Homo sapiens: one gene and its partners. Changing the gene in region 3 together with the main gene of any one other region gives a genetic interaction. Each region holds a gene or a part of one and is shown on either strand. Other genes may lie near its edges.

The links.
Region 1: changes in EGFR (region 3) and COPE together harm fitness more than expected from each alone (negative genetic interaction), as found in Homo sapiens cells (2 studies listed by BioGRID).
Region 2: changes in EGFR (region 3) and PPCS together harm fitness more than expected from each alone (negative genetic interaction), as found in Homo sapiens cells (2 studies listed by BioGRID).
Region 4: changes in EGFR (region 3) and EIF6 together harm fitness more than expected from each alone (negative genetic interaction), as found in Homo sapiens cells (2 studies listed by BioGRID).

What each region holds. Positions count from the first base shown.
Region 1 is NC_000019.10:18,916,379-18,924,202, reverse strand, and holds the start of COPE (coatomer subunit epsilon), read left to right. Parts: upstream 1-4,815; 5' UTR 4,816-4,854; coding exon 4,855-4,980; intron 4,981-7,824. Other genes in the region: probable ATP-dependent RNA helicase DDX49, read right to left, coding at 1,459-1,599, 1,690-1,877, 2,239-2,360, 2,455-2,540, 3,500-3,623, 4,347-4,461. UniProt on the Homo sapiens protein: The coatomer is a cytosolic protein complex that binds to dilysine motifs and reversibly associates with Golgi non-clathrin-coated vesicles, which further mediate biosynthetic protein transport from the ER, via the Golgi up to the trans Golgi network.
Region 2 is NC_000001.11:42,452,302-42,459,542, forward strand, and holds the start of PPCS (phosphopantothenate--cysteine ligase), read left to right. Parts: upstream 1-4,241; 5' UTR 4,242-4,264; coding exon 4,265-4,772; exon of another isoform or gene 4,773-4,945; coding exon 4,946-5,049; exon of another isoform or gene 5,050-5,266; intron 5,267-7,241. Other genes in the region: ZMYND12 (zinc finger MYND domain-containing protein 12), read right to left, coding at 3,587-3,696. UniProt on the Homo sapiens protein: Catalyzes the second step in the biosynthesis of coenzyme A from vitamin B5, where cysteine is conjugated to 4'-phosphopantothenate to form 4-phosphopantothenoylcysteine. Has a preference for ATP over CTP as a cosubstrate.
Region 3 is NC_000007.14:55,155,014-55,162,031, reverse strand, and holds part of EGFR (epidermal growth factor receptor isoform a precursor), read right to left. Parts: intron 6,203-7,018; coding exon 6,086-6,202; intron 5,500-6,085; coding exon 5,373-5,499; intron 5,274-5,372; coding exon 5,200-5,273; coding exon of another isoform or gene 5,189-5,199; exon of another isoform or gene 5,093-5,188; intron 4,370-5,092; coding exon 4,279-4,369; intron 1,894-4,278; coding exon 1,694-1,893; intron 534-1,693; coding exon 401-533; intron 1-400. UniProt on the Homo sapiens protein: Receptor tyrosine kinase binding ligands of the EGF family and activating several signaling cascades to convert extracellular cues into appropriate cellular responses.
Region 4 is NC_000020.11:35,281,773-35,289,610, reverse strand, and holds the start of EIF6 (eukaryotic translation initiation factor 6), read left to right. Parts: upstream 1-4,838; 5' UTR 4,839-4,885; intron 4,886-4,893; exon of another isoform or gene 4,894-5,118; 5' UTR 5,119-5,123; coding exon 5,124-5,230; coding exon of another isoform or gene 5,231-5,349; coding exon 5,350-5,435; intron 5,436-7,838. Other genes in the region: protein FAM83C, read left to right, coding at 653-820, 1,026-1,150, 1,639-3,076. UniProt on the Homo sapiens protein: Binds to the 60S ribosomal subunit and prevents its association with the 40S ribosomal subunit to form the 80S initiation complex in the cytoplasm. Behaves as a stimulatory translation initiation factor downstream insulin/growth factors.

The DNA of each region.
Region 1 (7,824 bases), on a different chromosome or scaffold from region 3:
CCAGCTCTCAGGTTCTGGGAAGGTGTTCCTGCCCCCACCCGCCCCTGAGACACCTAGCACAGTGGCCTCATGCAGCTTAGAAAGGAGAGGCAGCAGGCCAGGCACGGTGGCTCATGCCTGTAATCCCAGCACTTTGGGAGACTGAGGCGGGTGGATCACTTGAGGCCAGGAGTTCAAGACCAGCCTGCCCAACATGGCAAAACCCCATCTGTACTAAAAACACAAAAATTAGCCGGGCATGATGGTGTATGACTGTAGCCTCAGCTACTCAGGAGGCTGAGGCAGGAGAATTGTTTGAACCCAGGAGACAGAGGTTGCAGTGAGCCGAGATTGCGCCATTGCACTCCAGCCTGGGGGACAGCGTGAGACTCTCAAAAAAAAAAAAAAAAAAAAGAGGCAGGATGAGGGTTGACAGACGGCTTGCCTGCCTGATGTCCTCTCTGCTGATCCCTCCCTGGAGCTGGAACTGACAAGAGTTGGCCCTGGGACTGCAGGGCTGGAAGGCTGGAAACTGACTTGCTAGGGGTGGTCACTGTTACCAAGAAGGCCAAGAAGGAGCCAGCAGAGGAAAACAGAGGAGAAAGAGGGGCACAGGGAGAAAGGATGGGGACCATCACATAAGCTGCTGGATCCTGCCACGCCTGACAGCCACCCTGCAGCCAAACTTTTCTCTCTTTTTCCCTGAGACAGTCTCACTTTGTCCCCCAGGATGGAGTGCAGTGGCGTGATCTCGGCTCACTGTAACCTCCACCTACCGGGTTCAAGTGATTCTCCCGCCTCACCTTCCCCAGTAGCTGGGACTACAGGTGCTCGCCACCATGCCTGGCTAATTTTTGTATTTTTAGTCGAGATGAAGTTTCACCACGTTGGGCAGGCTGGTCTCGAACTCCTGACCTCAGGTGATCCGCCTACCTCGGCCTCCCAAAGTGCTGGGATTACAGGTGTGAGTCACTGCACCCAGTCCCAACTTTTCTCTTCTGGGAGGTAACGCATTTAAAGCGCCTTGATTTCTGCCCTTCTATCCTGGCTCATGCTGGAAGAGCCTCCAGCTTCTCAATGACCTTCCCAAACAATTCAATGAAGATATGAACTGCCCTCCCCAGGGGTCTCTGTCTGTGCAGACGCACACCAGGCCTGTTAGTTGTCACAACTTCCTCTGAGATGGGACTAAAGGCCCAGGAAAGCTCAGTGACACCCCCAGAACACAGCAAATGGGCTGCTCAAACAGCTGCTTGCAGGGGTTTCCTGGCCCTTCCATCAACGGCTGGGCTGAGGAACCCCAAAGGCCGGCTGCACCTTCAGATTGAGGGACCTTGGCTCCTTGAGGGAAGCCCCCATGACCTCCAGGCTGAGCAGAGGCTGGGGAGTGCTGAGACTGGCTGTGTGTCCCAGACCAAAGACGTCGGGCCACCTCCTCCTTTGAAGGGCGGTGGGAGGGGAGAGGCGGGCCCCGCTCACTTGCACGTGTTGGTGAAGATGATAATGGACCAGTCCTCGTGCTCATCCTGGAAGCGCTGGATCAGGTGGACCAGGTAGGCGTCCTTGACCTTCTCAGGCACCAGCAGGTAGCGCTGGTCCAGCTGCTCCACGGTGCTCACCCTGGGGATGGACAGATAGACCGCCACGCCTCAGTGTCCCTGTCTGTAGGATGGGGCTGCCCTCCCCACGCTGTCTGGGCTGTGGACTCACGGGGCCTGTGCTTCCCAGAAGAAGGGCTGGTTGGTGGCCAGACCCTGCAGCTCCCGGAGTGTGTCGGTCAGCGTGGCGCTGAACAGCAGTGTCTGCCTGCGGGCCGGCACAGCCGCCAGGATGGCCTCCAGGTCCACGGTGAAGTCAGTGCAGCCCTGTTCCAGCAGCCGGTCTGCCTCATCCATCACCTGCCGTGCCAATGGGGGCAGGGGTGAGGGTGCCGTCCATGGCCCCGGGTCTTGGCCACCCCTGAAGCAGGCCTCTTTGAGAGGCATGGACATGGACCCTAGGCCCTGGAGTACCCTCCTTCCAAGGGAGGCCTGCCCCTCACCCAAGTCTCAGCAAGGCCCTACCCCCGAATAACATTGCTAGGACTGGGCCCCCTCTTGTTGGTCCTTGAACGGTCCTTGTCACTGTTCCTAGCGTTTTACTGGACAGTCTAACGGACATACGTTTCCTAAATGGATGAGATGGTGCCCCAGGCTCTGACATTGGGCCTGGAGGCTCCGAGCCCAGCTCCTGAGGTCTGCAGGGGCGGGGCGAACTCACCAGGAAGCGGATCTTCTTTATACTAAAAGTGTTGGAGCTGCGCAGGTGATCTGCCAGGCGCCCCGGCGTGGCGATGACCACGTGTGGTTTCCGAGAGAGCTCCAGCGCCTGGGCCACCATGTCTGGGGGACAGAGCATGAGAGGCAGGGCTGGGCAGGTGGTCCAAAGCTGCTAGGGTCCCATGCTGGGGCTTCCCCCGCCTCCCAGCTCCCGTACCCATGCCACCGACGATGATGCAGTCTTTCAGCCCTAGAGGCTTCCCCAGGACCCGGAACTGCTCTGCGATCTGGTAGGCCAGCTCCCTGTGGGTGTGAAGGGGCCAGGCTGGGTCAGGTAGTGGTTCTGGACCTGCCCCCCATTCCCCTCTCCATCCCCAGGGTTCCTCCCTGAGCCCCCAGGCTCCTGACTTGCCCAGTCCTGTTCACAAAGGCTCTGATGCTGAGCCTTGGAGGCCATTGTGGCCCCTGCCCCCTCGCCAGGCTCAGCCTGGAACATCCCTCCTTCACCAGCCCGACCCAAGCTGACCTCAGCATCTCTTCCTATCCCAAACCTGTGCCTTCCCCCAGTTCGCCTTTCAGCAATGGCCTCACCACCAGCCAGTTGCCCCAGCCAGAGGGTCTCAAGCATCAGCCTCCTTTCTGCCCCCAACCAACTCTGTCCTGGCCTCTCCCTGGCTCATGACCTTTCCTGCTCACACACCCCCAGAATCAATTCTAACCCTCCGCCTGGCATTCAAGGCCTTTCTCAAACTGGCTCCAATATGCCCAGGTCCCAGTACCCTTTCTGCTGCCTGCCTCTTTCTTTCTTTCTTTTTTTTTTTTTTGAGACAGAGTTTTGCTCTTGTTGCCCAGGCTGGAGTGCAATGGCACGATCTTGGCTCACCGCAACCTCCGCCTCCTGGGTTCAAGCGATTCTCCTGCCTCGGCCTCCCGAGTAGCTGGGATTACGGCATGCGCTACCATGCCCAGCTAATTTTTTGTATTTTTAGTAGAGACGGGGTTTCTCCATGTTGGTCAGGCTGGTCTCAAACTCCTGGCCTCAAGTGATCCGCTCACCTGGAGCTCCCAAAGTGCTGGGATTACAGGTGTGAGCCACTGCACCGGGGCCATCTTGTTTAATTCTGCAGGACCCCTAAGAAGCGGGTAGCAAGATTTTCATGCTCATCTCACACGTGGGAAAAGGGCGCTCAGAGAGGGAAAGGTGCTTGCCCAAGAGAGCACAGCTGGTTAACCCATACCCAGGAGGCCTGCTGGGGGCTTACCTGGTGGGTGTCAGGACGAGGCAGAAGATGCCATAGGGATCCTCAGACAGCTTCTGCAAGATGGGAAGGACAAACGCTGCTGTCTTCCCACTGCCTGTCTTAGCACAGCCCAAGCAGTCTCGACCTGGGTTGGGGACAAAGCAGCATCAACACCCTCCATGTGTGGACAGCTGGGTTTCAGAGACCTTGCCCAGGACACACTGCCAGTGAGTGGCAGGCTGGACTGGAACCCATATCCATTTGACCCGAGATGCCCACAGCTTCCTACCACCTCGTTCTAACTCCGTCCAGGAGCACGTGAATTTGGGGAATCCAGAATTCCCTTCCCTCATATGCATCTTGTGCTCCCTGTTGACCCCTTCATTTGTTTATTTAATCCCTGACTTATCACATCTTAGGCTTCCTGTGGGCCTCTCTTTAATGGCGAAACTGGGTTGGGCTAGAGGAGCAGAGAGAAGACCTTCTCCTAGAGGAGCAATCACAGGACCAAGGAGTCCTGGATCTACCAGCAATTTTGACAGCCTCAACTTCTATTTGTAAAATAAAGATAGCAGTACCAGGTCTGCAGGATTTTGCGATACTATCGGACTAGTCATCCATCAAACCCTCCCTGTGCTGAGACTATGAAAATTTCAGAGATTACATCACTTGCGTACGAACACAAAGCGAGTCAGTCATGCAACCTAAATGCCAACACTGTCCAGTCGTCCTCCGGAACCCCGGATCTCCTGTAACGCCCGAGGTTGCCCCTCGCCTCGTGGGACCGGAATAAGCAAAGGTTGCGAGAAGGGAAAGGAGTCGAGAGGAGCGGAGAGGCCTCTTGGGGAAGGCCCTGGGCCATACTCACCCTCCAGGATGGCGGGGATGCAGCCGAGCTGCACGGGCGTGGGCTGCTTCAAACCCAGCTGCCGACATTGTTCCACGAGCCACGATGACAGCCCGAGCTCCGCGAAGCCTGCCATCCTTGTGGCCGCTTGTAGGGGCCCCTTGTAGGGGCCCGTGTGATCCGCGCTTCCGGCGCGCGCCGACGACGTCACGAGAAAAATCTTCCTGTTTATTGGATCTGCCTCCTGCGTGGTCCCACCCTCTCCAGCTCCCTCAGCCTATTCCCAGCCTCGACCGCATCCTTATCATGTTTCCCCGGATCCCATTGGCTTGCAGAAACACACTACAATTCCCGAGATGCTCTCCGTGACGCACTTACGCCTTCCGCCCCCTTGCATATTATTGTGGAGCTTCCCATTGGCTTACTTCGCCGCCGCTCGGAAAAAGTAAACTACATTTCCTAGCGTGCCCGTGTCTTGCTTCCGGCTGACGTGTCTTTCAGGAAGAGGAGCTGGTGAGAAGACAGCGAAATGGCGCCTCCGGCCCCCGGCCCGGCCTCCGGCGGCTCCGGGGAGGTAGACGAGCTGTTCGACGTAAAGAACGCCTTCTACATCGGCAGCTACCAGCAGTGCATAAACGAGGCGCAGCGGGTGAAGGTGCGGCCGCGCAGGGGCGCGGGGACGCTGGGGGCGGAGGCGGAGGACGCTTTCTGGTGGCCGCGAGCCGCGTTCTGCGTCTAAAAACTTTCTCTTTTCTTCTCGCGTTTTTTGGGCCACCTCTTCCACAGTTCAGTGAGGAGTAGTCACTGTCCCGTGACAGAACCCAGAGCAGTAACAGTTTACGGTACTGCTCACTCGTACAGCGTTCTCTCTGCGCCCTTGAAAGTGTTTTGAGTAAGGGAGGTGTTTATGCCACTGTAGTGACAATAAGCCTATTTTGTTCAGCCATACCTTCAGTTCCCGTGAGATGGAGACTGTTGCTTATCCTCATTTTACGGATGAGAACCCTAAAGTTCAGAGAAGGACGTTTCCCTGCCCAACCAGCCTGGTTATTTCTCCCAGAGCTTACCCATTCATTCATTCATTCTTCATTGAGCACTTTTTTGGACGGGCACTGTATTCCGCTGGACTCAGAATGATAAACACAGTTTCCCAGCGCAGTGGCTCAAACGCCTGTAATTCTGGCGCTTTGGGAGGCCGAGGCGGGCAGATCGCATGCGCCCAGGAGTTCGAGACCAGCTTGGGCAACGTGGAGAAACCATGAGTCTACCAAAAATTAGCCGGGCGTGGTGGCGGGCACTTGTAATCTCAGCTACCGGGAGGCTGAGACAGGAGAATCGCTTCAACCCGGAGGCCGAGGTTGCAGTGAACCGAGATCGCGCCACTGCACTCCAGCCTGGGTGACAAAGTTGTAAGAATTAAAGAGGAAAGAAACACGAAAGGTGGCTTGCCAGTCAAGACAGGTTTATTTTAGAGAAAACAAACCTGAGAGGCGCCTTCTGGCGGAGTTGGGTCAGAGTAACACTCTTTTACAGACTAAGAGTTTTTAAGGATTCAGGGTCGGAGAGTTTATCAGAGGCTTGAACTGCTTCTGTGTCTCTTCGTTGTGCTTATCTGGGAGGGAGAGTTGTGTGTCTGTTCCCATACATCTTTCTTTTTTCTTTTCTTTTCTTTTCTTTTTTTTTTTTTTTTGAGATGGAGACTCGCGCTGTTGCCAGGCTGGAGTGCAGTGGCGTGATCTCGGCTCACTGCAACCTCCGCCCCCAGGTTCAAGCAATTCTCCTTTCTCAGCCTCTCGAGTAGCTGGGATTACAGGCGCGCGCCACCATGGCCCGGCTAATTTTTGTATTTTTAGTAGAGACGGGGTTTCACCATGTTGGCCAGGATGGTCTCCATCTCTTGACCTTGTGATCTGCCCGCCTTGGCCTACCAAAGTGTTGGGATTACAGGTGTGAGCCACCGTGCCCAGCCTCCCATACATCTTTCTGCAGCTGCAGGCATACCCCCCTACTCTGCTTTTAGCTTGCCTATTTTAGTGCACCTGAAGGGAAAGGAATGTGCTTATTAAGGCCCACTGTTTTACTGGGGCCCGTTGTATGAAGGTGAAGTTTGGCAGTTACCCAAGAAATTTTCTTCCCACTCTCTCTCTGTCCGAGCTGTCTTTCTGTGTTTTACTGTCTCCTCTTTCTGGCTGCTTGTAGTTAGAAGTGATTTCCTGGCCGGGCGCGGTGGTTCACACCTGTAATTCCAGCACTTTGGGAGGCGGGCGGATCACCTGAGGTCAGGAGTTCGAGACCAGCCTGACCAACTTGGTGAAACCCCGTCTCTACTAAAAAATACAAAAATTAGCCGGGCATGGTGGCAGGCACCTTAATCCCAGCTACTTGGGAGGCAGAGGCAGGAGAATCGTTTGAACCCAGGAGGTGGAGGTTGCAGTGAGCCAAGATCCAGCCATTGCATTCAAGCCTGGGGAACAAGAGCGAGACTTCTCTATTAAAAAAAAAGAAAAAAGAAATTTCCTTAAAATTCATGAGGCTAGAAAGGGGGCTGGAACTTAAAGTGGCAGTGTTTGTCTGAGATGTTGGTGCTCTTACTATGTCAAAAGTGAGACCCTATCTCAAAAAAAAAAAAAAAAAAAGAAAAAAAGAATGTTTCTAGTAGGCTTTCTTGTCTTCACCAGAACCCGCCACTGGAAAAAGAAAAAAAAAAAGGCAGAGGGAGATTTGAGACACAGAGATGATGGAAGCAGAGATGGGAGTAATGTGGCTACAAACTGAGGAATGTAACAGTCACCAAAAGCTGGGAGAGGCAGGGAAGTATCCTCCCCTAGAGCCTTTGGAAGGAGTGTGGCCCTGCTGACACCTTGATTTGGGACTTCTGGCCTCCAGGACTGTGACTGTGAAGGAATACTTTTTTTTTTTTTTTTTTTTTTTTTGAGACAGGATCTCACTCTGTGTCACCCAGGCTGGAGTGCAGTGGCATCCTCCTCCTCCTGGGTTCAAGCGATTGTCCTGCCTCAGCCTCCCAAGTGGCTAGGATTACAGGTGCCCACCACCACACCCAGCTAATTTTTTTTTTGTTTTTTTGTTTTTGAGATGGAGTCTTGCCCTGTTGCCCAGGCTGGAGTGCAGTGGCACGATCTCAGCTCACCACAACCTCTGCCTCCCGGGTTCAAGCAGTTCTCCTGCCTCAGCCTCCCTAGTAGCTGGGACTACAGGCGTGTGCCACCACACCCAGCTAATTTTTGTATTTTTCCTAGTGATGGGGTTTCACTGTGTTGGCCAGGCTCGTCTGTAACTCCTGACCTCATGATCCGCCTGCCTCAGCCTCCCAAAGTGCTGGGATTATAGGCATGAGTTACCGTTCCTGGCCTAATTTTTGTATTTTTAGTAGAGACAGGGTTTTATCATGTTGGTCAGGCTGATCTCGAACTCTTGACCTCAAGTGATCTGCCCGCCTCAGCCTCCCACAGTGCTGGGATTACAGGTGTGAGCCACCACG
Region 2 (7,241 bases), on a different chromosome or scaffold from region 3:
TAGTGAATTACAGAATGTACGCCCTGACTAAAGACATTTAAATTCATGCAAACCTATGGTACTGAAGTCTCTTTTACTTGTCACCAATGTTTTAGTATGTACTTCCATAAAATTACCTTTTCTTAAAAATGTTCTACTGTCCTGTAATCCCAGCACTTTGGGAGGCCGAGGAGGGCGGATCACAAGGTCAGGAATTCGAGACCAGCCTGACCAATATGGTGAAACACCGTCTCTACTAAAAATACAAAAAAATTAGCCAGGCGTGGTGGCGCATCCCTGTAATCCCAGCTACTTGGGAGGCTGAGGCAAGAGAATTGCTTGAACCCGGGAGACAGAGGTTGCAGTGAGCCAAGATGGTGCCACTGCGCTCCAGCCTGGGTGACAGAGCAAGACTCCGTCTCAAAAAAATAATAAAAAAATAAAAGTTCTACTGTGTCTCTAAAGTAAATAAAAATGTGCTATTCTCTGAGAATGGTCATAATCCACTATAGAGCAATATGCACAAGATTACACACAATATATAAAATAAATGTATTCAGAGAAAAGAAGGAAATTCACCAAAATTTCAGGTTATTAATCCCTGGGTTGTGGGACTATGGCTTATTTTTCTTCTTGATTTTTTATATTTTCAGGTTTTCTGCAGTGAGCATGAATTGCAATTATAATCAGGAAAAAAATTCTTTTGCAGAAAAAAACTTTCACAAATTCAGACTGACTTTCTTGTTCCTTAAACTTGGGATGATGAAAAGGAACATTTACTGTGTGCCAACATGGTTCCAGGAAGGGTACTAGATGCTTTACATTCGACCATCAAAACCTATAGAACAACAACCTCAGTTTTGTTTTATCAAAAAATCTTGAAATCTGCAAGACCCAAAGACATAGAAATCTGGAGAAAAGGAAGCAAAAAAACAAAAGGAGAAGGTCTTAAAGAGAATTAAAAGCAAGTAAAAGAAAAAAAATCGAAGATAAGGGCATAGAAGATGATAATTTATACATGCATTTATCAGATATTAGTGCCAACTATGTCTTTTTTTTCACATTTTTATTTTTTGGCCCAAGGGATAAAAGCACAAGTGCCAACTATTTCAAGACACTTTGCTAGAGACTATGGGGCATACAATGACAGGTCGGACATAGATCAAAAGTTAGCATACTTGACAGTCCCTCTGTACACATTTGACATAGTATCTAGCATTAATGGAGCATAACAGAATTGAAATAACACACTCACCAACAATTAAAATGAAGAGAAATATGAGTCATCTGAGAGATACAGAGTACTGTAAAGTTAGTTCAGAGGAAGAAGGAATTACTTCCGGCTGGAGGGATACAGAGGACAGGGGTGTTTTAAGGAAAAAGTCAGTGCTCACACCAAGCAAAAGGATTGAATCTTTCCCAAGCCTGAGTGGCAGGTTTTACCCACGGCGGTTTACTGGCCATCTCTCTGGGGGTGACCCAAAGGCCTCTTAAACTCTATGCCTACAACCAAATCTGATGCCCGTCATCTTTTCCCCGTGTTCCTTGCCCAAGTTAATGGGTTTATTATCCATTTAGTTTTATTCAACAGATGTTCATTGAGTGTCTGGTATGTGTGGCCACTGGGTCTAGTAAAAGACATAGACATCAGACAAGCAAACACAATAATATAAAAGTACAGAAAAAGCAAAGAAAAATGGTACTGTGAGAGAGAAAAGTATGACGGGGAGTTGAGACTGGGTTTAGACCTCTTTGAAGAAATGACATTTAAACTGAGAACTGAAGGATGAAAGGGAGCCAGGAAGGCTTGTAGTTGAAGGGGAGGTTCCTAGCAGAGAGAACAGACTGGGAAAAGAAACTGAGGGAAGAAAGGGCTTAGCAAATTAGAACTTCAGTTCTCTATAACTACAGCAAAGAAAAAATGGGGTGAGTGTGGTGGGAAGTGAAGGTAGAGAAATAACCAGGGCCTTGTATTTTCTGTTACAAATTCTTAATTATATTCTAAAGGCAAGGAAGCCACCAAAGAGGAGATAGCAATGAAAACACAGATACCATCCCTGCCCTTGTGGGGCATACAGCCTAATGAAAGAAATAAATAAATGATTTCAGTCCATGTCCTAAGTGTTAGGATAGGGGACATACTCAGTGCTTTGAGAGCACTGAGGAAGGACACCTAGGCCAGTATGAGAAGGTACTGCAACAGCTTCTTGATCTGTTATGCAGCCGTCAGTGTCTACCTTCCTCTGTATCTGCCACACTGCAGCCCATCCTCTTTCCTTAACACAAATGAGAGCATGTCAGCTCAAAACCATTCATGGTTTCCCAGGAGATAAATTCCAAACCCTTGATCTCATGTCACTGTCTAGCCCTAACCTTTATCTTCTTGGTTTAAACTTCTACTACCTATCACAATGATGTTCCAACTTTTTTTTTTTTTTTTGAGACACAGTTTCACTCTTGTTGCCCAAGCTGGAGTGCAATGGAGCGATCTCGGCTCACTGCAACCTCCGCCTCCCGGGTTCAAACGATTCTCCTGCTTCAGCCTCCCGAGTAGCTAGGATTACAGGTGCACGCCACCACATCCGGCTAATTTTGACTCAACCTATAGTAAGAAATACATTTTTCCTGTACACACACACATGTCCACATAAAACACTAAGACAAAAGTTTTAAGAAACAATTCAGGTAGGATTAACCTGATACTTTCTACTCATTCTGTGCTCTTTTTTGTTGTTGTTGTTTTCTCTAAATGGTGATTGTGACTTATTCATAAACTGCTAAAGGGCCCTGGCCTGCAGTTTGAAAATCACTGACTGCTCCCTCCACTACTACGTTCTCCACTCGGCCCTTAGCAAACTCTGTTCTTTTGCCATTTGCCCTAGCAGTCCCGGATGCCGGGAATGCCCTACCCTTCTTCACTACTCCTGTACACAGCAGGTTCTGACTGCCCTCTCAAAATGCAGCTCAAATGTTTCTTCCACAGGGAAAGCTTTCCACATACTGCCCCATTCACTATCGTCTCACTCTCGTTGCCCAAGCTGGAGTGCAGTGGCGCGATCTCCGCTCACTGCGAGCTCCGCCTCCCGGGTTCAAGCGATTCTTCTGCTTCAGCCTCCCGAGTAGCTGGGATTACAGGCGCCCAGCACCACTCCCGCCTAATTTTTGTATTTTTTAGTAGAGACAGGGTTTCACCATGTTGGCCAGGCTGGTCTCGAACTCCTGACCTCAGGCGATCCGCCCGCCTCGGCCTCCCGAAGTGCTGGGATTACAGGCGTGAGCCACCGCGCCCGGCCTGTTTCTTTACTGATTTGTCTCCCACATTGGAATGTTAGATCTTTGAAGGAACTGATCTACCGAGCTGCCCCAGTAACTTTAGCACCTAAAATAGTGCATAACACAGAGTACGCCTTCAGAAAACATGAGTGACGAATAAGTGGGAGATGAGACAGACGAGGCCACGGGAGTCTTAGGGGCCTGTCTTAAAGCCGTTTTGAGGTGTCCCTTGCAGAGTCAGGGGCAACGGCTAACGCAAGGTACCCAAGCCAGACCCGGGAAAGGGAGAGAGGGAGGGAGTTATAGCGCCCAGGTGCCACGTTTCAGGGCCTACCAGTAATAAGTGACTGTGCAGGCCGCGCACACCCGCTCGGCTGGGGCTTCGCACACCTCACAGCAGAGTCTGCGCCCCTTGGGGACTGCCAGTGGGTAGATCACATTCATGGTGCAGCCAGCAGTGCTGGTCTCTAAGACGGTTGCCCAGCAAGGATACGCTGAACCCCGGCGTCACGTGACGATCGCGGGGCTGCGTACTTGCCAGCATTTCAAGGGCAGAGGGCGGCGGGACGTGACTCGACTAACATCTGGGTGTATTGCTGAAGTTGGAAAAGGGGAAGAAAGAAAGAAAAAGCAGCACAAAACCCACAAGTCCCACGGGTCAAATGGCCGAGAAACGACTCCCAAGGAGTCCAAGTCCAGAAAGGCCCGTACAGTGGCCGGTAAGGGTCAAACATGGCCAGTTCTTCACCCAGGCTAGGAAACGAACGTGAGGGAACGTGACCCTACCAGATGCCCACCCAGCCGGGGATCCCCCTCGTTGCAGTGTCACTTTCGCTGGGCTCTGGGGCAGAACAACTACGCATTTCCAGACTTGGCGAGATCGGGACCTAGTGTCAAAAGAAGGGTAGTGAACCGCCCACTCAGTACGGCGCGGCGCGTACACCAGGTAGGCGAGAAGGGGCGTGGCGCGGCGGCCGCGAAACGTGCGCAGGCGCCGGCCGCTGCGCTGCAGATGGCGGAAATGGATCCGGTAGCCGAGTTCCCCCAGCCTCCCGGTGCTGCGCGCTGGGCTGAGGTTATGGCTCGCTTCGCGGCCAGGCTGGGCGCGCAGGGCCGGCGGGTGGTGTTGGTTACGTCAGGCGGCACCAAGGTCCCACTGGAAGCGCGGCCGGTGCGCTTCCTGGACAACTTCAGCAGCGGGCGGCGCGGTGCAACCTCGGCCGAGGCCTTCCTAGCCGCCGGCTACGGGGTCCTGTTCTTGTATCGCGCTCGCTCTGCCTTCCCCTATGCCCACCGCTTCCCACCCCAGACTTGGCTGTCCGCTCTGCGGCCTTCGGGCCCAGCCCTTTCGGGCTTGCTGAGCCTGGAGGCCGAGGAGAATGCACTTCCGGGTTTTGCTGAGGCTCTGAGGAGCTACCAGGAGGCTGCGGCTGCAGGCACCTTCCTGGCAGTAGAGTTCACCACTTTGGCGGACTATTTGCATCTGTTGCAGGCTGCGGCCCAGGCACTCAATCCGCTAGGTGCGTGCCCTAGGAGTACCCCTTTTGCCTGGAAGCACAGCCTTTCTTTCCAGCCACTTATCCCCTTACCTCCTGCTTACCCACGGATCTCAGCTGGGGAACCCGAGTTGAGAAGGAGCTGATCCTATATCGTACCTCGCCGATTTGTTAACACCTTGTGTTTCTCTTTGCAGGCCCTTCTGCGATGTTTTACCTGGCTGCGGCTGTGTCAGATTTCTATGTTCCTGTCTCTGAAATGCCTGAACACAAGATCCAGTCATCTGGGGGCCCACTGCAGGTGATGGGCGCTTCTCTTCCAGAGATCTAATCCCATATAACCAATCTTGGGTTAATTTCCTCTTGATCTGGAGATGGCCTTTCTGCATCTGTATTCGCTAGGCACAGGGGATACAGAGATGAATAAGACACCGCCCTCCCTCATGGACCTCACAATCTAGTGAGGGAGCTGGACACAGACATAATTACAATACAGAGTGATAAATGCTCTAGTGGAGGTATGTACAAAGTGCAGTCAGATCATGGGGCGAGTGAATCCTGGGGGAGTCGATGAAGCTTCTTGGAGGAGATGAATTGAACTGGGTTTTAAAAGATGAGCAGAACCGAGCGCGGTGGCTCACGCCTGTAATCCCAGCACTTTGGGAGGCCAAGGAGGGCAGATCGCCTGAGGTCAGGAGTTCGAGACCAGCCTGGCCAACATGGTGAAACCCCGTCTCTACTAAAAAAATACAAAAATTAGCCGGGCGTGGTGGCAGGCGCCTGTAATCCCAGCTACTCGGGAGGCTGAGGCAGAAGAATCGCTTGAAACCAGGAGGCGGAGGTTGCAGTGAGCTGAGATCTCGCCATTGCACTCCAGCCCGGGCGACGAGAGCGATACTCCGTCGCAAAAAAAAAAAAAAACACCAAAAATCAAAACAAAATGAGCAGAGGGTGTACGAAGTGGGAAAGGTCATTCCAGGTGGAGTATGGCAGTAGGAATTTGAAAGTGGGCAGTGGGCTGTGAACCGAAGTGCTTTGGTAAGGCTGGAGAGCTGACTGAAGAGATGGCTTGCTTTGTAGAAGACTTTATTTTCCTTTTTTAAGGAGCTTGGACTTTTTCTTGTGGAGCTAAGGGACACATAAGTAGGAGAATGAGATAAAGTTTTTGTTTGAGAACAACATTCTGGCATCAGTATGAAAGACGAAGTAGAGAAGGAGAAAGTGGAGTGGGTAGATTAGTTGGGGGCTATTGTAGGTTAAGGAAGAAATATGGATAAGGTAGGTGTGGTTGTGATTTTAGATTTTTGGAACCTTCAGGAGTTCTTAGTCATTTATTGGGTGATACAGGTAGGATTTTATTAGGAGAAACTCTTATCTGTGGGGCATTTGCCGACTTTGTAGAATAGTTTATTGAGGTCCTACACTGCTGTAGGACTTAGAGATGAAAGCAGTGAAAAGAAACATACCCTGCCTTTGTGTTGCTTCCTCTGCAGAGGAGACAATAAATAAGTCAAATACATAACTCGTTTAGTAGTGATAAATGCTAAGGAGAAAAATAAAGTATAAATAAACTGGTATATGATCCCTATCACACTAACAGCTTTTTTTTAGGGCAAAGTCTGATGATTAGCTTAGTGATTTCACGCTTTTTAATCTCTGGGATCTTTAGTTTATCCCACAGTTTTTAGTTCTATCTTGAAAGTAACAAAGCAACTGAACATTACCCTGAGAAGGGATTGGGGATGAGGTACTAGGAGTTTTGGTCAAGTGAAAATAAAATCAGTTTCCTCACTGCTAAGTTGTGTTACATGTGACAATTTAAAAATGGAATCTAATAGCCATTCTACCAATGCAAGAAATATTTTAGGCTGAGAGGTTTAAAAACCCAACTTTATTTAGGCTTCTGCCAAATATTTGTATGAACAGATTATTTGTATCTGTTTATTTGAGGGTTTGGTTCAAAAATAAAGGGACATGCTTGAGAAAATATTAATGGTGGTAAGGTTGGCAGAGCATGGCAGGGCTTATTCAGAAGGCATGGTTTGCCCCAGAATATGTATGGAGCCTTGAATTTAGGCATCGCTGTGAACTCTACAGAGCCAAGGCTTTTTTTTTTTTTTTTTTTTTTTGTGAGACAAGGTGTCGCTCTGTTGCCCAGGCTGAAGTGCAGTGGCATGAACACAGCTCACTGCAGCCTCAACCTTCCAGGCTCAAGTGATCTTCCCATCTCAGCCTCCTGAGTAGCTGGGACTACAGGTGGGTGCCACCATGCTTGGCTAATTTTTGTATTTTTTTGTAGAGACATGGTTTTGCCATGTTGCCCAGGCTGGTCTTGAACTGGGCTCAAGCGATCCACCCATCCTGGCCTTCCAAAGTGCTGGGATTACAGGCCAAGCCACTGTGTTCCCCTAAGACTTTTTAAACTAAACATTTAACTGAAAAGTTTGATGGTTGAGAAATCCCACTTAAATTTAATTCCTTAGTTTCCCATGA
Region 3 (7,018 bases):
TTTGTGTTAATTTATTTTCACACACCAGGAATCGGGCACTACAAAGAAAAGCCCAAATGGCCACGGTGTTGGCTAGATGAACCATTGATGACTGTCTCATTTGTCTTAGGAACTTTTTGTAGCTTAGAAAAATTTAAGATACTTCCAGGAAAAGAGATTCTATAAATTATTGGATTATATTAGGCAATAATACTTGCTTATTTCCTATTGTGCTTAAATTTGCCAAAAATAACGCAATCAAACAACTTCCCGTCTCCCCACAGAAAACCCAAAACCTCCAAAAGCCAAGGGCAAAGAATAAAAGGAAGAGAAAATCAAACAGAATGCCTGTAAAGCTATAACAACAACCTGGAGCCTTATTTTTGATCAACGCAAGGGGATTAAAGAAATAACCTCCTACCCCTCCAGAAGGTTGCACTTGTCCACGCATTCCCTGCCTCGGCTGACATTCCGGCAAGAGACGCAGTCCCTGGGCTCCGGGCCCCAGCAGCCCTCGGGGGAGCACAAGGCATGGCAGACCTGGCCTGTGGCCTCTGCGGAGACAGAGTGGGTCACAGCAGTCAGTGACAGAGCAGGGACCCGAGGGGCCGGAGGAGACGGCACCTTCCCGGGAGGGGCCCTGTGCTCCATGACCTTGGGTGACACAGACATGCTGGCTACCCCTGAAGGAGGAGGACACAGACTGGGCTTCCCAGAGGCCGACCGTGACTGGAAGGACAAAGTAGTTGTGCTGGCTGCTGGGAAGACTGAAATGTGCCTGACAGTGGAGGACAGGTCTTCCTCCTGGTGGGAGCCAGGCACCCTGGCACCCGAGAGGGGGTGCCGTGAGTCCTCCCCTTTGGCAATGGCATCAATTAAACCAGATGGGACTCCATGTTTTCTGTGCTCCCACGGCCACTGCCCCTGCTGAAGGAACCAGGTGTGCAGAGGAGCAGGTGCTGCTGGGCACAGGGTGTGTTTTGATGGTACCCAGGGCAGCCTGGAGCAGAGCTGGTGGTGTTCTGATGACAAATCCCACAGCTGATAGGAGCCATTGGGCCATTGGCTGTGTGCTGTGTGCTAGGCACCATGGAAGGGTTTTACACACAGGAATTTCACTGAATTCTCTCAAAGCACTACGGCGTAGGAATCATTCATATCTCCATTCTATGGATGAGGAAGCCAAAGCCTAAACAGATTAAGGGAATTGACAGAGGCTCAAAGCTAGGGAGGCCAGACCAGCACTTGACTCAAAGCTGACGCTGCCCGTGGCCAAGGCCCAGCACAGGCCAGGCTCTCACCAGCTTCAAAAGCTGAGGCTCTAGAGCCAGAACAGGAAGTGTTGATGTAAAGTGCTCATTCCATTCCTCTGTGTGTGTATGTGTGTAGCTGTAGTCTTTACAGGCTGAAATGAGCAGAGAGTGACCTACAACTAAAAGGTAATATAACTAATACTAAATTTAGTTACTTACATTACAAATAATTGGTAGCCTAAACCTCAGGGTAAATTCATCCCATTGAATGGTAATGATCTGGAAAAAGTTTTAATGGAATTCACATGGTAATTTCACAGTTAGGAATCTTAAGATTTTAATTTGCTTCTTAAGGAACTGAAAAAAGTAATTTAAATGGGAATAGCCCTTCAATATTCTAAATACAAATAAAGGACCCATTAGAACCAACTCCATAAACTAAACAGAAAGCGGTGACTTACTGCAGCTGTTTTCACCTCTGTTGCTTATAATTTTGGTTTTCTGACCGGAGGTCCCAAACAGTTTTTTCCAGTTTATTGTATTTGCATAGCACAAATTTTTGTTTCCTGAAATTATCACATCTCCATCACTTATCTCCTTGAGGGAGCGTAATCCCAAGGATGTTATGTTCAGGCTGACGACTGCAAGAGAAAACTGACCACTACATTGGAGAGAAGAAAAATCATGTGGTGAAAAATTATAAAAACAATGTATCCCTGAAAACTTTGTTTCTCCAGACCACCTTTGATTGACTACAAACTGCTTTCCAATGATGGTAGGTCATGCTGTGGGAGGCACACACTGCACCTTTTGAAAACTGCAGGTGTTTTTAAAGTTCCTCCAGGCAAAAGATAGTTCCTTGTTTATTTAGTATCTTTAACCCAGTGGCAGATGGGGAGGATGAATAAAATGCCTTAATGTCATTATATTTTCTCCATTTTCATTTTGCCTGGAAATTGAGAACATATTCTAACCTCTCAAACAGCCAAATACACTTCAAAGGTGTGGGTTCATCCATCTATCCACCACCCAACCTGTCCCTCTATCCATTCATATATTTATTGAACAAACACTAGAGGTTCTCTGTCCCAAATTCTGTGCAGGTTAAATATGTTTCCTCCTCTCCAGGACGCTTGATCTGGTGGTGACACAACCCCGTAAGCAGATCATTTTGAGCCGGTGTGAAGAGCACAGTGAGTGTGGGCAACATGGAAGCAAAGAGCAGGGGCCTCTGACCAGGTCTGGGAGGGATGCCTGGGAAGTGGGGCCTTCCTCCAAAAAGCTATGCCCAAGGTTGTGAGGCCCTGAAAGCAGTAACTGTGGCATTTTCTTCACCATCCAACATGACACTAGGATGCTATTGGGTGGTCCAATGTGTATATCAGATGACTGGATGGAAGTCATTCAGACCGAAGGGGGGATGTCCTCAGCCACCTGGAGGAGCAGGAAAGCACGCGGTGGACATGAGAACCACTAGCCCCAGCCAGACCACGATGGGTGTGAGAACCACTAGCCCCTCCTGAACCACGATGGGTATAAGAACCACTAAGCCCCTGCCGGACCACGATGGGTGTGAGAACCACCAGCCTCTGCCAGACCACGATGGGTGTGAGAACCTCTAGCCCCTACAGGACCACGATGATGCAGGCTGGGAGGGCTGGGCTGGTTTGGGGAGGGAGCACAAGGCCAGAGTGCACCTTGTGGAGGAGCTGTCTGTAATTGAGAAGGAGCCACAGGAAAGAGATCTGCATTTGCAGGAAGCTCTCATCTGACCCCAGGCTGGGGGCTGGGCCAGCTGAGAGCACTGGATGAAGAGACTGATGTTCAGGTGTTGGATGGCAGGGGGTTAGAGTATCATCCAGAGGCTTCTCCTCTCCCTGCTGCTCTTCTTTCCCCCATCTTTTTCCTTTCTCCTACACAGATGAGTGGTCTCGCATAGGAGCCTGTAACCAATACCATTAGGAATTCTCCCCCACATATGCCCAGGGAGGCCAGGACACCAGGGCAGAGCCAGGTTTTCCTTGCAGGGCAGGTCTGGGGCCTCAGTGAGTCACACCCTGGAACGTGTGGCCACCCTGTCTCAGTAGGAGCTGGAATCACCAGACTTCTCATTAAATGTGAAAAGTAAGTAACCCTTATCTTGTTTAAATCCCTACAACTAAGCCAACTGGCTCATACCAGCCATCCAAGAAAATTGCTCTAAATCTCTTATTTTTATAAGAATCTTGGTCAAAGAAAGCATTCCAGAGAATTCAGAGCAAAAAGGCCTTTCTGGGAAGCAACGGTAGCCACATATTTAGTATCAGAGATTCAGAGCCAAGGGAGTTTATGGGAGGCAATGCATATTTCACGCACTCTTATTCTCTTTAATGTTGCACAGTATTATCTAGTGCTTTAAGAGTCAAGTAGGGGCAGCAGTTCTCATAACGAGGCTGCTTCCAAGGCGGGTTTCACTAAGAGATTCCCATCTCCTCCTCCACACCACTAAACTGATGATTACCATTACCATATTAAAGATGCTTGTGTGTGAGCACCTGCATGTCTATTCCACTGTCAAAGCTGAAAAAGTGGAAATTCTTGAAGAGTGGTGCTAAAAAGTCTCTCTGGTCCCTGTGATAAGATGTGCATAACCTCAATTGCATCCTGAGAAAACACCAGCTGAACAGACATGGTTAGACAGTGTGCAAAGTACCTGACCCACACGTTTTGTAAGTGTCAAGGCCGTGAAAGACAAGGAAAGACACAGGAGCTAATATAGGTTAGAAATGGACTGAAAAGATTTGACAACTAAGTGCAATGTGGGATCTGGAGTGGACACAGAAGCAGAAGCACTGGCGAGCGCTGAGAAGTCTGTGGTTTAGCGGACAGCCTGTGCCAGTGGTCGTGCAGTCTTGCTCCCTGTGCCTGCTCATGTGAGATAGCATTTGGGAATGCCGGCGAGAGATGCAGGAGCTCTGTGCCCTATCTTAGCAACTCTCCTGTTAAGCCTAATTTCCAACTAAAAAGGCAAATGTAATCTACCAGGCTTTGGCTGTGGTCAACTTACTGTTGCTTGGTCCTGCCGCGTATGATTTCTAGGTTCTCAAAGGCATGGAGGTCCGTCCTGTTTTCAGGCCAAGCCTGAATCAGCAAAAACCCTGTAAGGCAGATGAAAGACTTCAGACACACACCACGTAGGAGTTTCTTTTTTGTATGAGACATTACTCTAGACTCTCAGGGACTCTGTATTATATGAACAGTAAGTGGGAAAATTGGATTTGCTTTCTTTTTCATTATCATCTTCTCTGAGTGTACATGCGCAGGGCGGACGCAGGCCGAGCCACAGTTCACAGCTGCCTCCCGCCTTCCGCTGCGATTCCGCATGTCTCCCGCCGCCCCCCTGGCTGTGGCCCTGAGACCCCTGCTGCGCCGCGTATCTGATTACCCCGAAGAGGCTCCTGCTGCGATTATCTGCCAATTGTGGATCTGGTATCACATACAAGGAGCTTTACAAATTTTCCTTATTTGATTCCAACCTTAAAACAGTCTTGTTATTTTGGTCTAATCTTCCCATTTTAGAGAGGAAGGAAGCGGAGCTCAGGCGGCAGTCATAGACCCGAGGCTTGCCCGTGGCCCCACAAGGCTCTGGCGTCCAGTTTCAAAAGCCTGAGGCCCAGGCTGCCTGTCACCTACCCCTGTCCCCTCCCTCTACCCTCAGGGGTTATGGGCCACCAAGGCAGCTGGCTGGGGCCGGGCGGGAGGGAGAAAGCGTGTTTACACCGCAGTGAATGACCCAAGCCTGGACTTAACGTGTCCCCTTTTGCCTGCAGGAGAAACTGCACTTTTGAAAAATATCAAAACATCAGCCATTAACGGTAAAATTTCAGAAGAAATGTTTTTATTCCAAGGGAACAGGAAATATGTCGAAAAGTTCTCTCTCTAAAACACTGATTTCCCATTTATATTCATGTGATAATTCAGCTCAAACCTGTGATTTCCTTTACGGTTTTCAGAATATCCAGTTCCTGTGGATCCAGAGGAGGAGTATGTGTGAAGGAGTCACTGAAACAAACAACAGGGTGATTATTGATCACCAATCTCTACCAGTTAAAAAGGCAGATTTTGTTTTTCTTTATACAAGCAACTGAACCTGTGACTCACCCCCTAAATGCCACCGGCAGGATGTGGAGATCGCCACTGATGGAGGTGCAGTTTTTGAAGTGTTTAATATTCGTAGCATTTATGGAGAGTGAGTCTTTAAATTCACCAATACCTATTCCGTTACACACTGCAGAGATAAGAGAGACGTGTATTCCGTTCACATTTGTTGGATTAAGAATAGCTAGGGATCCACAGGCAGAGGGAAGCAGGAAGGAATTCCGGTCACCGGAACCGCCACTGCCACATCATCCTTCATTCACTCAACAAACACTGAAGGGGCTGGGGAGAGTGCAGGCGGGAAGGGGGGACACCAGGACCTATAGTACACTTTGGGGCTACGGCGGTGTAGGAGATGCCATCCCTGTCACCTCACACTGACCTTGCGTTCTCCTCATTATTTCCCATGGGCCGCTTGGAGCTGCACTGCTTCCAGCTCTGCCTTCCCTGGATTCTCCCCAGGGCTGGGCACCTGGCAGCTGCTGAGCGGGGCTGGCTCTGTGACTGTTCTCATCAGAGCCCCCCACCCCGTCACAACCTTCAGTGCCTTCCCATTGCCTAACCTAGCTTTACAGCTTTATCTTCTGTTTTAAAGAAACGATATGTATAGTTGTTTTTTAATGAGAAGAGGAAGATGTGTTCCTTTGGAGGTGGCATGAGAGCCCAGCCTCAGCAGCCGAGAACAAGCCTCGTCCGCACACCGGCGGGCTTCCTACCTTTGCGGCAAGGCCCTTCGCACTTCTTACACTTGCGGACGCCGTCTTCCTCCATCTCATAGCTGTCGGCCCCACAGGCTCGGACGCACGAGCCGTGATCTGTCACCACATAATTACCTGGGGAAGAGAGCATGAAAGGAAGGTGATGACGGTGGCACCAGGTGCTCGGGCCTCACACAGGCGGTCCAGGTCCTCTTGAGGGGTGATGGAAAGGCTCCATCCTCCTTTGGCTTTATTTACTTTAAGGACAAAGAATGAAAGGTTGCAAATAGAGAAGGAATCCCGTTCAAGAGTTTAATAACATTCTAGGCCGCAATGTGGACAATACAGGTGTTTCATCATGGCAGGAAACACTGGGTCCCTTGAGGGGCCAGCTGTTTTGCGTCCCAGCAGGCACCTCAGCCCTCTCCTCCACCTGCTCTCACCTTTAAAGTAATTCATTTGTATTAATAGCAGACTTCTGCGTTATTTTTAGGAGCTCTATGTCTTCCTTTTTTGTTTGTCTGAGATGGAGTCTTGCTCTGTCACCCAGGCTGGAGTGCAGTGGTGTGATCTCAGCTCACTGCAACCTCCGCCTCCTGGGTTAAAGCAATTCTCCTGCCTCAGCCTCCTGAGCGGCTGTGATTACAGGCGTGCGCCACCACGCCCGGCTAATTTTTGTATTTTTAGTAGAGACGAGGTTTCACCCTGTTGGCCAGGCTGGTCCCAAACTCCTGACCTCAGACAATCCAGCCCCTTCAGTCTCCCAAAGTGCTGGGATTAAAGGCATGAGCCAATGAGCCACTGTGCCTGGCCTGTTCCTGTTTTAAGTTCCCCAAGAAGATCCTCAAAAATATTTATAGGACATTGATGATTCTTCTGTGAACCATCTGCTCTTGGTATCTCAGGCTCGAAGTGTTTTCCTATGGATTTTAAAGCTCTGTTAAGCCCTAT
Region 4 (7,838 bases), on a different chromosome or scaffold from region 3:
AATCACAGCACTTTGGGAGTCCAAGGCAGGCAGATCACAAGGTCAGGAGTTTGAGACCAGCCTGGCCAACATGGTGAAACTCCATCTCTATTAAAAATACAGATTAGCTGGGCATGGTGGTGGATGCCTGAAATTCCAGCTACTTGAGAGGCTGAGACACGAGAATCGCTTGAACCCAGAAGGCAGAGGTTGCAGTGAGCCGAGATCACGCCACTACACTCCAGCCTGGGCAACAGAGTGAGACTCTGTCTCAAAAAAAAAAAAGAAAAGAAAATTAGCCAGGCATAGTGGCACATGCCTATAATACCAGCTACTTGGGAGGCTGAGTTGGGAGGAGATTGCTTGAGCCTGGGAGTTCTAGGCAGAAGAGAGCTATGATCACGCCACTGCACTGCAGCCTGGGCAACAGAGTGAGACAGACACTGACTCTTAAAAAAAAGAAGACAGTCAAATCTGCCTGTGCCCAAGTTAAGAAGCCCTGGGCTAGGTCACTGCTAAGTGCCCTTCCTGTTCACTTGCTCTTGAAGGCTCTGGCCTCCTGATTTTCAGTCCAGTACTCTTTTCCCGGCGCCCAGTTTCCTGCCCCAGGTTTGGCTGGATGTGGGGAGTGCCCTGGGCAGCGCTGAGCTTTCGTGTGCCTCCCCCCACCCAGGTGGTGGCTGTGGTGATGGACATATTCACTGACATGGAGCTTCTGTGTGACCTCATGGAGGCCTCAAGCCGGCGTGGTGTCCCTGTGTACCTGCTCCTTGCCCAGGAGCACCTGAGGCACTTCCTGGAGATGTGCTACAAGATGGACCTCAATGGGGAGCACCTGCCGGTCAGTGAGGACCAGGGGCAGTAACCAGGGGTGTGGGCGGGGAGTCAGGGAGGGCAGGGGAGCCAGTGGGTGGCCAGTCAGCACTGGGGGGCACTGGGAGTGGGGGGTGGGTTCCCTTAGCTGTCTGGGGTTAGAGACCCCATGGGGCAGAGACATGGCTTGAGCCTCACTCTCTCAAGGTCACCCCCAACCTACTTCCACCTAGAACATGCGTGTGCGGAGCACGTGTGGGGACACATACTGCAGCAAGGCTGGCCGCCGCTTCACGGGGCAGGCCCTGGAGAAGTTCGTCCTCATTGACTGTGAGCAAGTGGTGGCGGGCAGTTACAGGTGAGCAGGCACGAGGAGGCAAGGGGGGCCTGGGGCTGCATCACTGGCTGGCAGCTCTGAGCTTCCCTCCACTCATCCTTTCCTTCGGACACGGGCTGAGTACCTGCCATGTGCCAGGCATCATGCCAGGCTCAGGGGAGGGTGTCGGGGGCATCGGCCCTGGAGGAGCTCACTCTAGGGGAATGATTACTTTAATACCCTTGGTATAGAAAATGACTATGCCCATTGGAACTGGAGTGACTTCAGGGAACCTCCCCCAAGTCCATTTGACAGATGGGGAAGTTGGGGCCTCCATGAGGTCACACACTAAGCAGGGCTAGGGCAAGCACAGACTCTGGAGTTGGAGCTCTGCCCCTCGCTGTGAGCCCTCGTGGTGGTGGGGTTTGGGTCTAGCGTGCTGGACCAGGTATGCACCCCTGGCTGTGACTCCTGCCGACCCCCAGGATCCTGCACTTTGCCTCCTGACCCCCCTGTCCCTCTGCCCCCAGCTTCACCTGGCTTTGCAGCCAGGCCCACACTAGCATGGTGCTGCAGCTGAGGGGCCGCATCGTGGAAGACTTTGACCGGGAGTTCCGCTGTCTGTACGCTGAGTCGCAGCCTGTGGAGGGCTTCTGTGGCGGTGAGGACCCGCTGTCTCCCCGGGCACTGCGTCCTCCCCCTGTGGCCCTAGCCTTCAGGCCTGATGTCCCAAGCCCCACGTCGTCCCTGCCCTCCAGCACCAGCCTCAGCAGCATCAAGCAGTCACCGCTTATGGGTCGCTCCTCCTACCTCGCTCTACCAGGAGGTGGTGATTGCAGTGATACGGGTGTGGTGTCCTCGTCCCTGGGTCCTGCCCGCCGTGAGGCCAGTGGCCAGCCCTCCCTACATCGCCAACTGTCAGACCCTAACCACGGCTCCCCTCCTGGGCTCTATAGGGCCAATCTCGGCAAGCTAGGGGCATACCCATGGTCCCAGTCCTCCCCTGCCCTCAACCATAATAGTACCAGCCCCTTAACCTTGGCAGTGGGGTCACCTCTGCTTCCTCGCTCCCGGCCCCTCCTCCAGTTCCATCGGGGTGCCCCAGCTCTGTCCCGGTTCCCAGAGAATGGGCTCCCAGGAAGCCAAGAGCCCAGCCCCCTGCGGGGTCGATGGGTACCTGGCACAACCCTGGAGACAGTGGAGGAGAAGGAGAAGAAGGCATCTCCAAGTCAGAGCCGTGGCCAGCTGGATCTCCTTGTCCCCTTCCCCAGAGCCCGAGAAGTGGGAGACCCTGACTCTGGGGTTACCCCCAACTCAGGCCCCCTTCGGCCTGGCGAGCAGGCCCCAGAGGACAGGAGGTTGTCCCCAAGCCAGGCCGACAGCCAGCTGGATCTCCTGTCCCGAGCCCTGGGTACTGGGGGTGCCCCTGAGTTGGGTTCCCTCAGACCTGGTGATCGGGCCCTGGAGGACAGGAGGCTGTCCCTAAACCAAAGCCGTGGCCAATCAGACCTCCTGATGCAGTACCCCAAGGCCCAGGGTTCCAGAGTGCCCCTTGAAACCAACTCCTCAGCCAGACCTGCCAGACGGGCACCAGATGAGCGGCGGCAGACCCTGGGGCACAGCCAGCTGGACCTCATCACAAAGTTCGGCCCATTCCGTGGTGAGGGGCCTGGGCCCAATGGTCTCCCGATATCAAGCCCTGCTCGCACGGCTGGAGCTGGGTCTGGGGATGAGAAACGGCTAACCCTGGGCCACAGCAAGCTGGACCTCATCACCAAGTATCATCAGTTGCACGGGGCCAGGCAGGGAACTGAGCCTGGGGGTCCCAAGGGTGGCCATCTCAATGGTGGTAACAGTGACCTGGTCAGGGATGAGAAACGGCTGACCCTGGGTCACAGCAAACTGGACCTCATCACTAAGTACAACAAGTCCAAGTTCAAGCAGCTCCGAAGCCGCTTTGAGTCCTAGCCAAAGGACTGGCATCGGGGGTGCACTGGCAAGGGCAGGCCCCTCCTCTGTCCACCGAGACTCTGGACTTGCTCAGGTCCCAGACTGGGGAAGGGAGGTGTCTAGAAACCCAGGTCAGACACACTCTCTGGGCTCAAGATTCTTGTGTACACACACACACACACACACACACACACACACCCTAACTAGTATCTTCTTGAATCTAGGCTGTGTTTCCAGCCCTGTGCTGGGCCTGTAGAGCTGACAGGTGGGTCACACTCAGACCTGGGGACAGAGGTGAAATGCACAAGCTGCTGGAGAAGGGGTCAGAGCCATATCAAGTTAAAGGTTAACCAGTTACAGAGGGTGTTAGAAAACAAAGGGCAGAGAGTCCTGGAGAAGGTGGAGTAGTCAGAAAACTTTCTTAGAGGAGATGGAGGTGGCCTTTGAGCCAGGCCCTGAAGGATGGGGAGGTTTTGGACAGAGGGAGGAGAGAGTTAGAAAAATTTTTGGTAGAGAGAATCAGGTGAAAGAGATGCCCTAAAGAGGACTGAGTGGGTCTGAGGTGAATGAGTGAGGAAGAGCAGAGTATGTGGATACCCGGAAACACACACACACACACATCATCATTATCATCATCATCATTGTCGTCGTCATCATCTTGCTGAGTCATCATCATCATCATCATCATTGTCGTCGTCATCATCTTGCTGAGTGTCTCTTGAAGTACAGGCTGTGACAGGTTGTGGGCCATTTTCCTGAACTCACCACTTACCCGGGATAGTAAACATGATACACATCAATAAAGGCAGACTTTATTGTGAATCACAGCGCCTGGTGTATCCTGAACTTTGAGGAGTTATGGGAGGGACACGTTGGGGGAATGGGAAGGGCACCATTCAGGCCAATTATGGGGAAACCCCTGGAGGAGGGTGAATGCCGAAGGAGGAATTGGGGGAGTCCAGGGGCTCCAAGTTACCACTGTGACATTTTGAGAGAACCCGGGGCTTTTGCAGATTCTACAAAATGTGGGCCAAGTTCATCCTGTCCAAGTGTGCAGCAGGGCCCTTGGCCCCCATCACTATCCTGGGGACAGAAGTTGGCTGCTGAGTGAGTGATAGAGGCCGTGCGAGAGGCACATCGTGGAAGCCAACCAGCACCCACATCCTTGCCCACCCTGGACCCCTTTCCAGCCTTTTCCTGAGCCCCTGCTTCCTCAGTCCTCCCCTCTCTCCAGCACCTGCAGCCTGGCTGCCTTTCCGTCTCTGGCTGCGCTCTTTCTCCAGCCTCGGTCTGGCCGCACTTCTGCCTCCTGGAACTCTCTCCATGGGTAGCCTCTTCTAGTCCACCCGTCTTCAGCCCCTCATCTCATTCGTCAGCACTCCACTCCCCTGCTGGGCTCCAGACATGGACTTCTGTCCCTCAAGGCACAGCTGGACTCATCCCTTTCCCCAAACCTGCCCTTCCTCCGGCTTCATTTCCATCAATACCTCCATCATCAACCCTTCCGCGAGACACTCCTGGCCCCTCCTCTCCCTCATGCCTCACAACCGACCAGCCGGAGGTCTAGGTCGATGACAGCTCCTAAAAAGCTCCTGAATGAATAATGAATGAATGAACGCGAGCAGGCTAGGCGTGGGGCCAGGCGGGGTCGCGCCCAGACCGCTCGCGACCATAGAGTCCGCCGGAGGCCGGAGGTAGAGGGGCTGGATGCGTGGCGGGGAGCGCCGGGCTCTCCCGGAAGTCTCCCTGGACGGAAGTGGAAACGGAAACCTTTTTAGGGAGTCCAAGGTACAGTCGCCGCGTGCGGAGCTTGTTACTGGTTACTTGGTAAGCTGGTGTGAGGGGAACCTGGGAGGGTCAGCTCCGGTCCTGGGTCGGGAGGGGTGGGGGCCAGAGGATTCAGGGCCGGAGGTTCTGGTGGGGGCCCAGTGGGCGGGACCCGAGGACGGAGGGGCCGGGAGGCCGAGAGGGGCGGGGTCGCGGCGGGGCCTGAGGGACGGAGGCCGGGATACTTGGGAAAGGATCCGCCGGCCTTGAACTCCCGCCTCCGCCGCCCCTAGGCCTCATGGCGGTCCGAGCTTCGTTCGAGAACAACTGTGAGATCGGCTGCTTTGCCAAGCTCACCAACACCTACTGTCTGGTAGCGATCGGAGGCTCAGAGAACTTCTACAGGTGCGGCGGGAGCCCCGGGGCTTACGGTGGCGGGGAGGCGTGCGCAGGAGTCAAGAGCTCCGGCAGTGGGAGGGTGCCGGCCCCTCTGCCCCGCCACCACCGAGTCCATGTCCCTACAGTGTGTTCGAGGGCGAGCTCTCCGATACCATCCCCGTGGTGCACGCGTCTATCGCCGGCTGCCGCATCATCGGGCGCATGTGTGTGGGTAAGGCAGGTGGAGGACGCCGAGGGAGGGAGTGGTCTCCAAGCACCATTAATTACACCCCCGGAGGGAACCCGGAGTGACCTAGGGATTCCCAGGGTATCATCTGTTATCTCTGGGCACTATAGAATCTCTCAGGCCAAGCGTCAGGAGATCGGGGCAACCCTCTAGCAAAGGCTGCTGGATAATAGTAATAACAAATAATGTAAAGTGCTTTCACTCCTGTTCTCATTCCTTCGTCACAAAGACACTAGAAGGTAGGAGTTACTGGCCTAACTTGACTGATGAGGAAGTTGAGACTTGACCTAAGTGACTCAGTAAGTTCCACACCTAGTTCCTAGTGTTGGAGAAGGATTTTTCTCTTTTTTTTTTTTTTTTGAGGCCAGATTTTTGCTCTTTCGCCCAGGCTGGAGTGCAGTGGCAAGATCACAGCTGTCTGCATCCTCAACTTCTTAGGCTCAAGTGATCCTCCCACCTCAGCCTACCAGGTAGCTAGGGCCACAGGCACGTGCCACCACACCTGGCTAATTTTTACATTTTTGGTAGAGACGCGGCCTCCCTGTGTTGCCCAGCCTGGCCTTGATCTCCTGGGCTCAAGTGATCTTCTTACCTTGGTCTCTTAAAGTGTTGGGATTATAGGCGAGAGCCACTATACCCAGCCGAGGATTTGTATCTCATCTCTCCCTGCCACTGACTGGGCAAGGTGCTTTCTCTTTCTAAGCATCCATTTCTGTCTCTGTAAAGATTAGCTAAGATATGCGGTCTTCCTGCTCAGTTACGTTGGAATCTTAAATTCCCTTTACCACATCTCTACCCTACCTTCCTACCTGTCAGCACTGTTAATTCTGGTCGTTGGTCCTTTCCTTTTTATTATTATTATTATTTTTTTTTGAGATGGAGTTTTCGCTCTTGTTGCCCAGGCTGGAGTGCAATGGCACGATCTTGGCTCACTGCAACACTCTCTTCAAGTGATTCTCCTGCCTCAGCCTCCCAAGTAGCTGGGATTACAGGCGCATCCCGCCACACCCGGCTAATTTTTTTGTATTTTTAGTAGAGATGGAGTTTCACCATGTTGGCCAGGCTGGTCTTGAACTCCTGACCTCAGGTGATCCTCCCACCTCGGCCTCCCAAAGTGCTGGGATTACAGGCGTGAGCCACTGCGCCCGGCCGGTCCTTTCATTAAGCTGGATCTGTCTTCCATTACTGCTGCCCATTGTTTCTTAGTTCTGCTCATTGAGGTCACTTTTAGAAGTCTGTTTATTTTATTTTTTTACTTTTACTTTAATTTTTAAAAATCTTAAGCCTGCTTGGGAGGTCGAGGCAGGTGGATCACCTGAGGTCAGCAGTTCGAGACTAACCTGACCAACATGGAGAAACCCCGTCTCTACTAAAAATACAGAAATTAGCCGGGTGTGGTGGCGCATACCTATAATCCCAGCTACTTGGGAGGCTGAGGCGGGAGAATTGCTTGAACCCTGGAGGTGGAGCTCACCCTGCGGTGAGCTGAGATTGTGCCATTGCATTTCAGCCTGGGCAATAAGAGTGAAACTGTGTCTCAAAAAAAAACAAAAAACAAAAAACAACAACAACAAAAACTTAAGCCTAGTGACCTCAAAGTATTTTCCTATTCAGTTAAAATACTCTGATCTCTAACCATGCCCTTAGGACTTGAAGCAAGTTCTGACAACAAGGGAGATTTTAGCTTAGTCCTTGTGTATTTTATGATGGGAGTGACCTGGAATTCAGAAATTGATTGGCGTGTATTTGTAGATTGTTCATTCTTGTTGCTGTATGGTGTGTTTTGTGTAAGTATATCACAACGTATTCATCCATTCCATCGACAGTGCATTTGGGCAGTTTTCACTTTGGTCTGTTAGGAATAGTGCTGCTGGCCGGGCATGGTGGCTCACGCCTGTAATCCCAGCACTCTGGGAGGCCGAGGCGGGCGGATCACGAGGTCGGGAGATCGAGACCATCCTGGTTAACACGGTGAAACCCCGTGTCTACTAAAAATACAAAAAAATTAGCCAGGTGTGGTGGCGGGTGCCTGTAGTCCCAGCTACTTGGGAGGTTGAGGCAGGAGAATGGTGTGAACCGGGGAGGTAGAACTTGCAGTGAGCCGAGATTGTGCCACTGCACTCCAGCCTGGGCAACAGAACAAGACTCCGTCTCAAAAAAAAAAAAAAAAGTAATAGTGCTGCTATGTTTTTTTAGTGAACACATGTACATATTTCTACTGGGTATATGATACCTAAGAGTGGCATGGCAGAGTCACAGGTTATGTGACTATTTAGTAGTAGTTGCAGATGATGCCAGATAATTATCTAAAGTGATTGACCAACTTACACTCCTGTCTCAGTATGAGAGTTCAGTTGCTCCATATATCTTTGCCAACACTTGGAATTG